Regions from separate parts of the Homo sapiens genome. Here region 1 is linked to region 2. Evidence: fine-mapped expression QTL. A gene starts in region 2. The other region holds a variant in brackets. All regions are shown on one strand. Distances are from middle to middle.

Region 1 (8,340 bases), 24 kb before region 2:
TCTTCAGCAACTCTGGGCATTCCCTGGCCGGGTTTCATTCCCACTTCTCCCTCAACATAGCTCAGGGTATCTTGCCCGCAGGAGGTGTGGGCTCTGACTGCGATGTAACATCAGCCCCATTCATCCTGCTCTATGTGCCTACATCCCTCACTCCTCATGACAACCATGCAAGCTCAGAATTGTACCCATTTTACAGAGGAGGAAGCTGAGGCTCAAACAGCAAGCAACTTGCCCAGGGTCACTTGTCCAGTAAGTAAACAAGCCAGAATTGGACCCAGGCAGTTGAATTCAGAGCCTCCTTCTGAACCATGATGGCCTTGGGTCTTGTGTGACAAGAAGCGGGAAGGTGGAGGGTACAAGACAGAGGCCGGTGCTAGAGGACTGTTCTGTTCTGGGCTCCGGATGTGGCCAGAGTGTTTTCAGAGGAGCCCGACTCCATGCTGTCTGTACATCTTCAAGTTCCAATCCTAAGCCCCTGCCTCTACCCAGCCCTGCCTCCCATCACAAGCCTCCTGCATTCCTCTAAGTCCCCTGGCCCCACTGCTTCATCCCGCGAAGCCCTCTGCCATCTTTTCCATCCCTTACCTACTTCCATGTCCCACATTCCTGTGTGGTTGAATCCAGAGATCAGTCCTTTCCCCACCAGAGGCTGGTTGCAGCCAAGTTCATCTGGAGGGCTCGGGGCACCCCTCTGGCCAAGCCTTCAGTCACAGAACCTTCAGCTACTCTCCCTCACTCAGGCTCAACCTCCAAAAGCTCCCACAGGACTTCATCTGCTTGGACTCCAAGCTTGTGGTCAAAGTTCAGACTCGGCTCAGGGACCTCCTGGGGGAACTTCCCAACACTGGCTGTCCCTCAGGCACAAACAACTCAGAAGCCACATCTGCAGAGGGACCATTTTGTCCAATGGCCTTGCTATACAGATGGGAAAACTATGGCCCAGAGAAGGGAGGGGGCCAGCCCAAGACCACAGAGCCGGGCACTGAGAGCAGAGCTGGGGCCGGAGCTTAAGTGCCCCCGTCTCCTCTCACCAGCATCCCTTCCCATTGCTCCATGTGCAGTCAGCACCCAGCCTTCCCAGGATCTCTGCCTGCCTGCCAGAGCCTGAGCTTACATTGCCTCTTCCCCAGCTTTGTTTCTCGAAACCATTATTTGAAAACCATTTTCCTTGCCAGGAGCCCCAGGCTCTTGGAATTACAAAATCAAAGCCCCACACAATGAGGAAGAAGCACTGCCTATGTAGAAGCCAGGGAGACTGCCTGAGACTCGGGTGCCGAGGTGAAGCTTGGGCTGATAGGATGTTAACTCTGTGCACTCCCTCTGCACCTTCTTCCCCCAATTGACTACAACAACAAGGAATCCTAGAAGCCAACAGGACCATAGAACTAGAGCCGATCAGCTGGATGGATGCTTAGAGATCATTGACTCCAGCCCCTGTACAGATGGGGAAACTGAGACCCAGAGAATCTGTGTCCAGAAAGGGACAGAGCCAGTTAGCAAGACAGCAAGACCCCCAGATGCAGCATCCCCCTAGGGAAATTCCCAGAGGCCCCCACCCACGGATCCCAGGTCTGCCGTTGGTGCTTACCTTTCCTGGGGTCTGGTCCAGGTGTGGCTCCTTGGGGCCTGGAGACGGGAGCCAGCCTGTTTGGGGAGTGGTTGGGGGTGTCACTGCTTCTCAACTAATTAGACCCAGCCTCTGGTGCCCCTCGCTGCCACAGGGGCATTTTTAAGCAGCTGGCACTGAGCCCCCCTCCCCTTAGTCCCTTGCCTGCGGCTCCCTGGCCACAGAGGCCACTCTGCCTTTTACCTTATATGAGCTGAAGAGGCAAGCCCCGTATTGGGGCGAGGCGGGTGCTGAGCCCTCCCAGGGCCCCCCATTGGCCCAGGCACCCCCCACGTGACTACCTTGCCTTGACCTGCCCCCGGTGCTGAATGTTGCTTTTACCCCCTAAGGAAGGAGTGGTTGACAATTTTCATATTTCTTCTAAATTTGGAGATTTCAGACAATGCTGGGAGCCTTGGCTCCAGCCACCAGAGGCCCATGTGGAAGTCATTAAGCCTGAGAAGGGGGGCAGGGGAGAGAGGGAGGCAGGGAGAGGAGGAGGAGGAGGAGGAGGAGGAGGAGGAGGAGGAGGAGGAAGGGGGTGGGGAACAGAGTTCTGAGGGTTGCCAGTTGTCAGCCTGGGAACAAGAGCAAACTCCCTGGGAGAAAGCTGTGTGAGAATTTCCTTCCTCCCCCAGCCCCTGTGTCCCAGGACTGCAGTGGGAGTTCTGAGACTTTCTGGGAACCTCCAGTAGGGGAGACACCAGTCCTGGCTCCTGGAATCTGGGTGATGGGAATTGGGGGAACAGGAGAACATGGGGAAGGAGAGCCCAGACCGTGGGAAGCTACTCCCATCATCATGCAAACGAGGCCTGGGCCTGACAGGGAAGATCCTGACCCAGCCACCTGGCAGGGTCACCACAGGGCAGGGGTTTGAATGTGGAATGTCCTTCAGGGGGCTCTCTTTTCCCTGCCACCGCAGTCCTGAGAAATGCCCATCTCTTGCCGGAGTCCCTCTTTCTCCTTTTGCTTGGCCACCTTGGCCTCCTACAGATTCTTTAGTGTTTTTCATGCCTCAGGGCTTTTGCACTTGCATTGCTCGCTGCCAAAAATGCCTTCTTCCCAGAGCTCATGCTGCTCCTTCCCCTGCTCCTGTCTCCCACTCAGAAGTCTCCTCTGGAAGAGCCATTCCCTGGCCCCCTCAGTATTCTGTCACACCCTCTGCTTGCTTCCCGCTTCGGACTCGCCACGCATGTGCCTATCTTACATGTCCACGGTTCTAGTTTCTTGCTGGCTAGCTCTTTCATGAGAGTGTGACTTCCCCTGGCAGGCTCTGTGTCCCCAGGCTTCCTAGAGTGTCTGTGAAGAAAGGTCAGAAAACACAAATCAAGGGATCACGTGAACCAGGCCTCGGCTGCCAGCCTAGGAGTGTCGTGCTGAGGCCCATGGAGGTCTTCTCCCAGGGGCCAGCGGGGCCTGCTCCCAGGGCTGCCACCGGGTCCTGCCTTCCACTGCGCAGAGCTTCCCTTCTGCAGCCAGGCCTGCTGGACCCCAGCGGTCTCTGTTCACGGCCTCATTCACAGTTCCTCAGACCCCCAGCCTGGATGGGCCTGCCAATCCCTCTCTCCTCCTTCCAGGCCAGAGGCTGTGGTCTGCCTGTCACCGACCCTGGGACCCCCTCCAGCAGCACACGGGGCCTTGTGACATCCTGAGTGGGGCCAGTTGAGGGCCCGAGGGGGTGGGGTGCTGAATCAGACACTGTCCCTGACCTTGAGAGCCTCCCAGTCCAACAGGAGGATTAAAAATGCCATGTCCTTACCCCTCCACCCTCCCTCATTCCTTCTGAGGAAAGAATTCTGTTGGTGTTGAAAGGCCGGTGGGCTTCTTCCTGCCTTGGCCACTTCCTAGCTGTGAGGTCTGCCGCTCCCAGCCTCCCTTTCCCCCGGTGCCTCCCTTTCCCCTTGGGTAAAATGGCGAGAATCACACCTGCCTTCAGCATTGCCATGAGGGCTGGGCGAGGTGGCCCGTGCAGTCCTGGAGGAAGGTGTGAGCAGGACTCGAGTGAGACTGGGCTCAGCCCTGCCCCTCTGCTCCCAATGGTGGGGCTGGGGAAAGCCCTCTGGGAACTAACTTCTGTGAAGATCACTGTCTCCTCTGTAGCACAGAGTCAATGGTTGTGAAGGTTTAGCCCCGAGCCTGCTTCAGAGTGAGTGCTTGATCGATGTAAGCTATGACTCAGAGTTGCGGTGCGAGAGCTCTACACGGAGGTTTCGCCACTAATGTCACCCCCTTCTTTTCCAAACCAAGAAGATGAATTCCGTTCATGTGCATGCCCTGGGGTGCAGGTCAGAGATGGTGGGTTAGGGAAGGCTTGTGACACCACTCCCCAACCCTGCACAGTGGCCCAGTCGAATACTCCAAAGCACCACTGACAGACTCTAGAGGGAAGATAAAGCCGGCCTAACAGAAACATCGTGTTTATGTAAAGTCCACTCTGGAGGCTGTGAAACGTAAGTTATGCTTCTGTGAGTTCTGCTACTGTATAAACAGTAGAGAGTTCGTCATCAAGAACAAACAGAAAAACTAGCAGTGCAAGCTGTGGGGAGACCCCCACCATTGAAATGCCCAAAAACTCTGCACCTGGCCGAGTGCTTTAGTCGGCTACGCCCATGAGTCAATGGGCTTGGTCAGCAGAAAGCCCATTGCGAGAGGCAAGACAAGGAACTGAAGCGACCTGGAGACAGGTCCTTGAATATCAGGAGAGAGGTGTTCTGCCACCAGACTAGCTCAAAAGGCGAAGTATATGGCAGCCATTTGTGACTCAGTGTCCATAAATCTGTCTCAAATATTTGGAAGCTGTTTCTATTTCCTGCCCATACTGTCTCTTGGGAGTTATGAACACTTTACATTATGAAC[A/C]ACTCATTCTGTGAAGTGGCTTTTCTTTCCAGACTGGGAGAGGCAGCCTTGAAATCCCTCCATTCCTAGAGAAAACAGGTCGACAGACTGCGGCTTGGTATGTGTGAGTAAGGCTTCTTGGGAGGTGAAGGGAGGTTCCTGTTAGGAGCTGAGTATGAGAGTGAGTTTGCATCGTTGAGTCCTGTGTTTTCAGATGGTGTATTTAGTCAGGGGGAGGGGGACCCTGTCCAGGAGAATAGAGGACTCATGGGCCCTGGGAGAGCCGGCTCTACTTCTCTACAGAGTGACCAAGGAAGACCTTGAATTGGTACAGTTGGAACCTTTAGGAAGATGGAATCTAGATCCACATGGGAAATACTTTTTAAGCCAGTGGAACTAACCAAGGATGAAGTGGGCTAACAAGCTGTCTTGGTAAAGTGGTGAGTTCCCTGTTATTAAGGGAATGCAAGCAGAGGCTGGACAACTTGGCAAGTCCCTTCCCAGCCCTGAGATCGTATGGGCTTCACTTCACCCTTTCTGTTCTCACCTCCCAACCTGTCCCTAATCTCCAACCCTGAATTCACACTAATTCTACCCAGGAGGCTCAGCTCAGAGGTGGCCAGTTGGGAAACAATTTTATATTGAAAAGGCCCATAACCCCTGAGTTAAAAATCAAGCCCCATATGTTCTCTTCAATGAACATAAAACTTTTTTTTTGTTGGTAGAGTTGGTATGTGGGAGGTGGGAATATGGACAATTAGTGATGAAATGCCTATAATTATTTGCCTTGCAATCCAACCATTTTCTCAAAAGCATCATACCATGGAAAGCTGCCCACATGGCTAGGCGTGGTGGCTCACACCTGTAATCCCAGCACTTTGGGAGGCTGAGGCAGGAGGATCTCTTGAGCCCAGGAGTTTGAGACCATCCTGGGCAACACGGTGAAACCCCGTCTCTATAAAAAATACAAAAAATTAGCTGGGCATGGTGGACTGTGCCTGTAATCCCAGCTCCTTGGGAGGCTGAAGTGGGAGGATCACTTGAGCCTGGGAGGCAGAGGCTACAGTAAGCCGAGATTGCATCACTGCATTCCAGTCTGGGCTATAGAATGAGACCTTGTCTCAAAACAAAACAAAACAAAACAAAACAAAACAAAACAGAACAAAACAAACAAAAAACTGTCTACAACTTGCTATTGAGTTTTTTTTTTTTTTTTTTTTTTTGAGATGGAGTCTCACTGTGTAACCCAGGCTGGAGTGCAATGGTGCGATCCCGGCTCACTGCAACCTCTGCCTCCCGGGTTCAAGCGATTCTCCCACCTCAGCCTCCCAAGTAGCTGGGACTACAGGTATGTGCCACCACGCCTGGCTAATTTTTTGTATTTTTAATAGAGATGGGGTTTCACCGTGTTAGCCAGGATGGTCTTGATCTCCTGACCTTGTGATCCGCCCGCCTCGGCCTCTCAAAGTGCTGAGATTACAGGCATGAGCCACCGTGCCCGGCACGAGTTTTTGTTCTTTTTTTTTTTTTTTTTTTAAAAGCATGGTATTAAAGAAGATAAATTGTATAATCCCTTTTAAGTCAAATGATGTGTACGTATGTGTGTGTCAGGAGAGGGTAAGTGTGAGAGTAGCAAGGCGCCCTGCTGGAGGTTGAATTTGTGTGTTGTCTCTTCCCTAATCTACTTCACAGATAGGCCAGGACAGGAAGTCACTGTGGAGTGCCCAAAGGTAGTATCTTTGGGAATGGCAGGGGAGGGTGAATTAACTCATTGTCCTGAGAGAAGGATGTAACACACCTTTTATGTTGATCGCCAGGGAAGAATGGTTATGGGAAGGGGAACAATGGTGTAGCCCAGTCCTCCCAAATCTTTGTGGGAAAGGCTTGCATTGAAGGGCCCTGGGTGGTTGGCTTGGAGCCCTTCTCTGGTCTAGGGGGAGCACCGTCTTCCACTACCGTGGCTGCTTTGGGAGTAGTGAACCTGACTGACAACTCGAATATTACTCACCAAGATTAGCTCCTGCTCGGTTATTCATGTCCTTCCACCATGGTCAGTGCACTGATACAAGACCACATGGGTCTGGACACCTCCTTCCAAGACGCCTGTACGGGAACCCTCTGTGTGTAAGAGGGAGGCAGTGAAAACCCTGTAGAGAGCAGCTGGGCTGCATGCTGGACTTCCTGCTATCACCAGCACATGGGGCTTGAACACTTGAAGTTTCAAGGAAAACCGGGCCACACTAATTGCACCCTGAACAGTGCAGGGTAACACATGTGACCGTGCATGTAAAATGCACCGTTCGATGTGTGAAAGAACGTTCAACAAAATAAGAAGAGAAGTTATCTCTGGGTGGAGGGAATTTGGGGTGATTTGGGCTTACTTCACTATAGTTTTCTGTATTTGATTTTTGTCTTGATTTTCATTGAGCATTTCTTGTTTTTAGGCAATTATCACATTTATTTATTTATTTGAGAGGGTTTCTTCCTCTGTCACCCAGGCTGGAGTGCAGTGGTGCAATCTTGGCTCACTGTAACTTCCGCCTCCTGGGTTCAAGTGATTCTCCTCCCTCAGCCTCCCTCAGCCCCCTAAGTAGCTGGAATTACAGGCATATGCTACCACACCTGGCTAATTTTGTACTGTTAGTAGAGATGTGCTGCCACACCCGGCTAGTTTTGTACTGTTAGTAGAGATGGGGTTTCACCATGTTGGCCAGGCTGGTCTTGAACTCCTGACCTCAGGTGATCCACCCGCCTCAGCCTCCCAAAGTGCTGGGATTACAGGCATAAGCCACCATGCCCAGTCCAATTATCACTTTTAAAAAGGCATACCACGAGACCTTGACAGCTTACTTTGTTTTAGAATTTATGTATGGCAACTGTGAAAAATTGAAAATTTAATTCAGTGTCCATTGTCTAATCAAGTCTTACCAGTCAGGGTCCATGTGCAGGAAAGCAATTATTCCTGCTCATTTGAGCAGAAAGGGATTTACTACAGGGAATCGGAAGCTTATGCAATTAGGAAAATTAGAGAAGTGGGCCCTAGAAAGGACCCTTGGGAATGACTTTGAAAACCACAAAATTGTCCTGTCAAGGCAGATGCTACCTCTACTGCCATCAGAAGTGATGTGATGGTTAATTTTATGTATCAATTTGATTGGGCTATGGGATGCCCAGATAGCTGGTAAAGCATTGCTCCTGGATGTGTCTGTTGGTGTGTTTCTGGAAGAGATTGGCTTTTCAATGCAGATCGCTTTTTGCCAATGCAGAGGGGCAGCATCTAGTCCATCGAGAGCCTGACTAGAACAAAAGGGTGGAGGAGGGGTGAATTCTCTCTTCTTGAGCTGGAACATGTGTCTTCTTCTGGCTTCAGACATCAGAGCTCCTGGTTCTTGCTCCTTGGGACTCTGGGACTTACACCAGTGGCACCCCTGGCTCCAGCCCTTTGAACCTGGACTAAGTCATACCAGCAGCTTTCCTGGTCCTCCAGCTTGCAGGTGGCAAAACGTGGGACTTGCTGGCCTTTATAATCATGTAAGCCAATTTCCGAGATAACTCTCCTCTTCTGTGTCTCTATATATCCCGTTGGCTCTGTTTAGCTGGATAACTCTGACTACAGTGGACTCTGGAGGGGGAGCTCCACTGTCATGTGAAGAATACACTGCTGCAGCTGTGTCCAGGGTTAGGAGGTCACTCCTGCCTCTGCCACACCCACAAAGCCAGCGACCGGTTGTGTCAGTCAGGCAGGGCTGCTGTAACCAAACACTCCATCCAGACAGGGTGGCTTAAATGATGGGAATTTATCTCACAGCTCTGGGGGCTAGAAGTCCGAGATAAGTGTCAGCAGAACTGGCTCCTTCTAAGGCTGTGAGAGAGAATCTGTTCCAGGCCTCCTAGATTCT
Region 2 (8,307 bases):
TTGCCAAATATTAAGTACCATTATGTGCCAGGCAAACAATAATTTTAATGATTAATGCATTTTAACAACCCCGTGAGGAAACGGAGGCCCACTGAAGTGAGGGGGGTGGACATGACCATATAATAAGGGGCAGGGCAAATGTCCAACCACCATTGCCTGAAGTCTGCCGTGCTTTCCCCACAGGAGGAGGGCTTCTGCAAAATAAAAAAGAAAGCTTTTATAATTATAATTATTTTCAACAACCAGAGTTTTAAAAAATGGACTGTGCATCCTCAGAGAGAAATGATATTCCTAGAGAGATGATACCCAGCAAAGGCACTTAGAAAGCGTTCCCGCTTTGCTAAGGGCTGGATGAGGTATCCCCTACCTCTGATGGCCTGTGGGTGGTGAGTGCTAACAAGAGACTTGGTACAGTGTAGAGTCAATTTGCAACCCAGAAACACAAACTTGGTGTTTTCAAGTCTGGATGCTCTGCAGAAGAGAGGCCTAGGCGACCCAGTCTCCAGTGAACAAGACCACCTCTTGGAGTCCTACCCCAACTCACATTTCTTTGACTTCCCCCTGTGGGGAGGAGACGCTGGCACCTGGCCTGGGCAGAGGGTCATGTCGACGTGGCAGCCCCTCTGCACACCCCAGAGGCCGCCCATTCACCCAGGCCTTTCCCTTTTTTGAGAACTGGGAGCTTGCTGGCTGGGGCTGTTCCCACCAACAATGTTCCCGTCCAGGGATCTTAAAATAGCACCTCTTGGCTGGGGCTCTGGAGTGAGCAGCGAGGCAAGCATTTGTGCAAATATGGGCCTGGGAGAAGGACTCCTACCAGGGAGGGAGGGGAGGGCAGCATGGCAGGAGAGCCAGGACCTCCCTAGGGGGCTGCACCCTCCTGGTCGCAGCCAGCAAAGGCGCCGACTAGCCTCTTCCCGCCTTCCCTGACCTTACTGGGTCCACTTGGGCAAGTTCTTAGACCAAATCCTTCAGGTCCCCCTGGCCTTGCCAACGCTCTAGGGTGGGCCCGCTGGAAATAGGCACCTTTGCATTCTTCTGCTGGTTCTAGCCTTGTCCCCACTTCGTAATGCCCTTCCTACCCAGGAACGTACTAGAAGCATTCTTGAAGGCCCAACTCAAAACTCATTTTAACTGTAGGAATGACAGTTGCAGCTACCATTAATGGGGTACTTACTTTTGCCAGGGACTGTGCTAAGCGCTTTAACGTGCATTATCTCATTTGATCCTCACAACAATCCACTGAGAGCCAAGTTATTATTATCTTCACTTTGCAGAAGAAACTAAGGCTCAGAGAAGTCAATTAACATTCCCAAGATGACACAGCAGTGAAGGGGCAGGGGCAGGGCTGAAACTCAGGCCAGCCCATCTGTGGAGGCTGACCTCTGCCCTCCCGGCTGCACTTCCTTCTCCAGGTCCCTCTGCTCTGGCCTCCTCCTCTGTCCCAGCATGGCCTCCCTGTATTATAGTCAGTTTGATTCAATGTATCAATATTTTAGTTCACATACCAGGAATGCTGTTGGGTGCCCCACGAGCACCCTGGGAGCTCTCGGATCCCCTTGATGACTTGGGCTTGGGCGTGGGTTTAGTGAGCACCCGAACCTACCGGGTTCAGGTTGTTTGAGGCCATGGGTCAAGGCTGAGGCCATCACAGACCGTGCTCAATGACCAGCTGACCAACTGGACATTCCCCCTCCACCCCTGGCTGCCGCCCCTCTCCTTACTCCACCGCAGGGAGCAGTGTGTGCAGGAGTCAGACAAACTTGCTGTGAATCTTCTGTGACTTTGGGCAAGTGGTTAACCACGCTGAGCCTCAGTTTCCCCATCTGTAATTCAGAATAAAACTAGGACCTCACCCAGTGTTATTTGGAGGATTTCATGAAGCATTTAGCTTATGGCCTGGCAGTCAGTAAGTGGATATTAAGTAGCAGCTATTATTGTTACTGTTATTTTCTGTGAATTAAGGTGTCCAGGTGCCAAATGCCTGAGGCCTGGCACACAGCAGGTGCTCAAAGTAAAGGCAATCACTCACTCAGCAGACAGAAGCCCTCACCCGACCCCTGGAATCGGTGACCCCGACACCTGGAATCGGTGACCCCGACACCGCCTGTGTCATTCCTGGCCGGCTCTGATGTCTCCTAGGCTCTGGTCCTCATCAACAATAGGGTCACTCTGGAAGCCAGGCACAGGCGCAGGGCCCCACCCACTCGCCCCATCCCCTCATTCTCAGTCCCGGGCCGCTCTTGGAGAAAGAGGTGGCAGAGTGCAAGTTCCCTCAGGGTCAGTACATTTTTCAGGGTTGGCTGGCTTTCTAGTGGCGCCATCTGCTGGTGAGTGCAGCACTGCTCCTGGCGGGGCCTGCTGCAGAGGGCTCTGAGCGAGACCGCGGCCACCCACTGCCCCTTCCCCTGTAGCTCATCTGCCCAGTCCTTCATTCACGCATGCTGACCACCCTCTGCGTGTTAAGACCCAAGGACCCCAGCCTCACTCGTGGGGTGGGAGCCCTGGAAGCCCAGTTCCTGCACCTCCCTCTCAGGCCTGGCACTGAGTCCTGGGGCTGGGTCCCACAGGCCTGCCTGGGTTCACACTCAGGACATCAAAAAGGACAGATGACCCTCCAGGGGTTTCTAGAAACCAAGACTGGAAGAAGGGGTCTCCCTCCTGGTCTGAGATGGTCCAGGAATGGGAAACCCAATGACTGTTGCTGGGCCCATGCCTGACTCCTCACAGCACCTGCCAGGGGACCCCAAAGCTCCCCTCCCCACTGTGAAGGATCTGGGGCCCCCACAAGGACTGGCCTGCCTCTTTGGTCTCCACCAGACCAGCAAGGAGGCCCAGCCTGGCCCAGAGCTGTTTGTATAAAGTCTGAGGGAAGAACAATGAATGACTTAGGAGACGGAGTTCTGCTCCCAGCTCTGGCACAAACGCACTGTGTGAGCTGGGGTAGGACCCTCCCTTATCCAAGTCTCCTTGTAGTAAAATGGGTGGGAGGAGGGGGCCAGATGATGGGTGAGGACCCGTGTAGCTCCCAAACTGGCCTCGTGCTAAGATGCAGATTTTTGCGCTGCTACTTCAGCATCTCTGGGGCTGGGACCCTGAAATCTAAAGTAGCAAGCACTGCAGCTGGAGCAGGGGAAGCTGACAAGTCAGTCCTGGCTTGGGGAGGCAGAAGTGAGGGGTGCGTATTTCCAGCAGGTAAGGAGAATGTGTTGGTTTCAGGGGTCCCCCATACCCCAGCATCCATCTTTCAGTTTGCCACTGTTCTGTGGATATGGGAGGGTCACCCCAGTTGCATGTCTGTGGGACCCCACTGCTAGCAGCAGCAGAGTGTGTGCAGAGAGCCAGCACAGAACACAGCCAGGCCGCCCGGCCAGTGGGGCTGGGGCTGGGACAGCCTGCGGTGGGGGCGGGGCCCTTGTTGCCTGAGGAGGTATTTTCAGAGTACCCCTCCCTCTGGAGTTTCCAACGGTAGAATAGAGCCCTGTCTAGTATTTGACCAAATATGGTGGCATCTCTCATGCTCGAGCCCCAGCCAGCATCTCAGTTATGCTGTGGAAGCCTGCCCCGGACAGATTAATCTTGTGACATTCAGGAGCGCCTCTCACCCTGCCTTCTTCCCCTCGGACGATTCCTGTAAATGGCCAAGACCGGCCCTCAGCACGACAGGGCCGTCCTCAGTATCTGTTCACAATGCCCCTCCTCTGTCCTCCTCACATTCCCTCCCGCCATTCCTGCCTCCCTGGGTGGATGTGCCCGCTTACATTGGGCTGGGCTGTTCACCTGAGGTGAGAGACATTGGCCAGAGGAGGTGGTCAGTTGAGCATGTGATTCCAGGACCTTTGGACCCTGAGGTCATCCGACCTCACAAACTTGTGGCCTGAATCTTGGAGGCCTAGACCTCTCTCAGCAGCCAGGAGGGTGGGCCTGAGGGGGTTGAAGGGAGAGTCAGTAGAGAAATGAGAACCATGCTACCTCTAATGCTAATTAGAACAACTAATGTTTATAATAATTATACAATTATTTTATAATAATCTCTATAATAAATAGCTAAGTGTTTATTGAGCACTTACTATGTGCCAGGTACTGTTGCCAGCTATTTAACATAGGTGATTTCCTTTATTCCTTATAGCAGTTTTAAGAGGGTGCCATGATTCTTCCCATTCTAGAGATGTGGGAACTGAGGCTCAGAAAGATTTCAGGAGGGAATGGGCCAGGCCACCGTCTACTTCTGGATACACCCACCATTTTATGGAGGAGGGAACTGAGGCTGACAGTAAAGCTCACATGCAGCCACACAGTCTCTGAGAGCGGAGACCACCCCAGGAGGGAGAGTGCTGTGTCAGGAAGGCCAGGACAATCAGCCGTAAGTCCTCATGGATCTGAAACTTGGCCAGAGTGAGGGCGTACAGCTTCAGAAATATGTTCACAGCAGGCTGAAATTGTGCGGAAAGTCTCCCAAGAAAAACAACATGGGGTGGTGGATAGAGCCCTGGATGGGGACAGGGTGAGAATAGCAGCTCTGACACCTCTAACTCACTGTTAATAGTGACAAGTCCCTTTCTGGCTCCAGCCTCAGTTTCCTTGACTGTGATCTAGAGGGGTGGGGCTTTGGTCTCCTAGGGCTGCTGAACTCACCTGAGGCCGGCAGAGGCTGGAGTGCCTGAGGCTGTTTCCCTGGGAGATGGGGCCTGTGTCCCACTCCTGGCCAGCACAATTTGAGAACATTTGCTCTCCTGACCAACCAACGGCCCATCCCTCCTCCACCCTCAACCCCTTGCCATCCCCTAAGCAAACGAAGCTGATTGTCTTAGCTGGCCCTGTGGGTGCTGGCTGGGCGGCCGGCCGCAGGCCACAGGCGGAGGTGCCACCGGCCAGAGCCCCACCAGACACACAGGGCATTGTCCCTCGGTCAACAGCCCCTGGGCACCTCAGCTCGGCTCCTGGCCTGCCCCCACGCCCCTCACCGCCTGCCACTGCGCTAGGCTCAGCCAGCTGGGGGCCCAAGGCTCCCAGCTGATGACGAGCCCACCCACTCACTCCCCCAGCAGCCCCCAGTTGAGCTATAATTGCTTCGCTCCATCCTGTTGCTGCCATTCTCTCGGCGGCATCTGGGGTTCCAGGCGGGCAGCAGCTGCAGGCTGACCTTGCAGCTTGGCGGAATGGACTGGCCTCACAACCTGGTACGTGGCGCTTCCCTGCCGCACCCCCACCCCTTTTTAAGAGCCCAAATATGTCAGTTTTTCTTTCCTATTTATTAATGGCTGCCTCTGTTTGGTTTAGAATCTGCAGAGGCAACTTCTCTGTCTTCTCCCCCAGGACTAGAAAGAAACAGAGACTGGTCACTGTAGCCATGGCCAGCAGTGCAGGCTCCTGAACGGGGCTCAGCCGGGGCACACTGAAGCCTTTTCAGACCAGAGGCGTCTGGGGAGATCCCGGCAAACTCAGTTATCGGGGTTTTTCCAAAGAGACCCGGCTTCTGAGGTCCTGGCTGTGTGACCTTGGGCAAGTCCTTCTGTTTCTCAGTGTCCCATCTGGAGAGTGAGGGAGGGGGACTTTGATTCTATTCTACGTTTCTCCGAGTGGAGAGCCAGAGTTTAAGAATGCCCTGTGAGAAACTCTAAAGAGAGAGCCTATTGTTAGGGAGACATTTTTTCTGCACTAGAATCTAGGACCAAAAAGGAAGAATTTAGCACTTGAATCTCTGTTGCAGATTTTGTGCCAGCAAATACCTCTGCCAAGAGGGGCTCTGCTGAAACTTGTTTCCTAGGGTCAAGACTTGCTGGGTAGCCTGGATAAAGCAGGCATGGGCCATGGGGCTGTGGGGCTGTGAGGTGAGGCATACAGGGAACATATGGAGCCTATCTCAATTTAAGAGGAGTCAGAGGTGCCTCCATCCTGGGAGCTCTGCCTCACACGCAGGCACTGTCCCTTCTCTCTGGATTCCTGGGGAGTCTGGCTTCTGCCGGGCCTGAGTCCTCTTCCTTGTGAGCCAAAGGCTTTCCTGATACTCTGGTGCTGGGAGGGAGAAGTGGATGGCAATGGGTGAGGGTGTGTGTGTGTGAGGAGGGCTTGGGGGATGGCTGGAAGAGGGAAGGCTCAGGGGAGAAGGGCAGTGCAGGCGGACAGGACATCCTTAGCCCATAACTTGCCCATCTCCCCAGCTTCATCTCATCCCCTCTTCCTCCCACCCACTCTTAATCAACATTCCATTCGATTCAGCAAAGTTCTTTTTTCTTTTTTTTGAGAGGAGTCTCGCTCTGTCGCCCAGGCTGGAGTGCAGTGGTGTGATCTCGGCTCACTGCAAGCTCCGCCTCCCGGGTTCAGGCCATTCTCCTGCCTCAGCCTCCCAAGTAGCTGGGACTACAGGCACCCGCCACCACACCCGGCTAATTTTTTTGTATTTTTAGTAGAGACGGGGTTTCACAGTGTTAGCCAGGATGGTCTCGATCTCCTGACTTTGTGATCTGCCCGCCTCGGCCTCCCAAAGTGCTGGCATTACAGGTGTGAGCCACCACGCCCGGCCACAGCAAAGTTCTTAACCAGTTCAAACCTCCTCTCTCATCTTCCCCCAACCCACCCCTCCCACACCTGCAAGACTTCAACTCCCTCAGCCCATGCCTGCCATGCCTCACCTGACATGTCCCTTCCCCAGAAAAGTTTCCCAGGCCATTGTCCCAGCACAGCTAAGCAGGAGGCCCCACTCTTCTCCAGCCACACCCTGAATGGGCCCATCCTGGACTTGTCGCTAGGGAGACTTGGGTGTTTGTCTTCTTGTTCACTGTCTTCCTTCTTAGACATAAATGACAGAAGGGCAGCGATGGGGACAGCCATTCATTTACTCAGTGAGTGTTCACTGAATGCATCACGCAGACACGGGAGATATGACAGTGTGTGGAAACTGACACGTGCCCCCACGGAGTCCATGCTGAGTTGGGGGCAGACACATAAAAGAATTGTATACACAAACTTTAAGATTGAAGTCATGCAAGAGGTGTGTGGGTTATGAGAGCCCAAGAAAGTCCAGAGGCATCCCTAAGAAAGCGATGCTAAAGCTGACACGAGGGGTGGGAAGGTGTCCAGGAGGTGAAGAGGCAGAATGCTGCAGGCAGAGGCTGTGCAAAGTCCCTGTGGCAGGAAGGAGCATGCTGAGTGTAAGACTGAGAGAAGACCAGAGGCTGGAACACACAAGAGAGAGGAAACAGGGGGTAATCTGAGGAGGGAGAGCTGGGGGATGGTAGGCAGAGTCAGACCTGAGCCTGGGAGACCCCTAAGAGCAATGGGAAAGGACCATGGACCCCAAGTCTTGGCCCAGATAGAGACTTGGCTCTCCCACCTTTGACCTGTGGCTTTCCTCCCCAGCTGTTTCTTCTTACCATTTCCATCTTCCTGGGGCTGGGCCAGCCCAGGAGCCCCAAAAGCAAGAGGAAGGGGCAAGGGCGGCCTGGGCCCCTGGCCCCTGGCCCTCACCAGGTGCCACTGGACCTGGTGTCACGGATGAAACCGTATGCCCGCATGGAGGAGTATGAGAGGAACATCGAGGAGATGGTGGCCCAGCTGAGGAACAGCTCAGAGCTGGCCCAGAGAAAGTGTGAGGTCAACTTGCAGCTGTGGATGTCCAACAAGAGGAGCCTGTCTCCCTGGGGCTACAGGTAGGCTGGGCAGTGGTGGCAAGCTGTCTTTGGGGGGTGGGGACCTTTCCTGTGCCCCAGTCATTGTAATGGTTAAGATCTCAGATTCAGAGGTCTGGGTGCTTGGGTTCGAACCCTAGCTCTGCCTCTTACTTGCCTGTGAGGCTTTGGGCAAATGGATTAGCCTTTCTGGGCCTCAGTTTCCTCAATGTAAATGGAGGCAACAGTAGTACCTCAGAGTCTTGTTAAGTGAGATATCCATGCAGAGCACTGCCCTCATTGTTCTTCAAGTCTCCATGGAAGTGCCTGCAAGGCTTTCCCCAGATGTCACTTCCTCTGCTCTGTGGGCCTCGGACGCCCTTCTCAGGTGTGGCGCTTCCATGCGGTGTTCCAGTCTGTCTCTTATGCTGGACCTGGGCCTTCCCAGTGCCGGCATCAGAATCACCTAGGGATTCCCATGCCCAATCCAAACCTCCAGCGGTGAGGCCCAGGAAGTGCTATTTCTTATAGCTCCACGTGATCAGGGCGCACAGCAGGCTGCGATTTGGGAATCAAGACCCATTGCCCTGGATAACGATGGCAGCAGCGTCCTCTCTTGGTTGTAGCTCCGCTTCCTTGCTCAGTGCCTGACCCATAGTAAGGACCAAAGATGAAGGAAAGGGCTGACCCTGAGGTCCTC

Direction of the effects. Alleles are on the strand shown, and positions count from the first base shown. SD is a standard deviation of normalised expression in the study named.
With allele C in place of A in region 1, the expression in visceral fat of the gene that starts at base 5,093 in region 2 is higher (small effect, 0.24 SD a copy in GTEx).

Evidence for each region.
Region 1: its variant is fine-mapped to the expression of IL17B in visceral fat (GTEx, PIP 0.92).

The regions. Positions count from the first base shown.
Region 1 is chr5:149,400,327-149,408,666 of GRCh38, reverse strand. CARMN (cardiac mesoderm enhancer-associated non-coding RNA) reads right to left here and starts at 1,822. Exons shown (of 5, transcript NR_105060.1): 1 at 1,589-1,822. It also overlaps a transcript of IL17B not described here. RefSeq lists enhancers at 333-1,333, 3,184-3,774. The variant A/C (reference allele first, on the strand shown) is at 4,463.
Region 2 is chr5:149,376,078-149,384,384 of GRCh38, reverse strand. It overlaps IL17B (interleukin 17B), which reads left to right and starts at 5,093. Exons shown (of 3, transcript NM_014443.3): 1 at 5,093-5,180; 2 at 7,360-7,649. The coding sequence starts at 5,160. LOC101927046 (a long non-coding RNA gene) reads right to left here and starts at 2,149. Exons shown (of 2, transcript XR_245875.4): 1 at 2,033-2,149; 2 at 26-194. RefSeq lists enhancers at 1,108-1,819, 3,246-3,958, 4,311-4,845.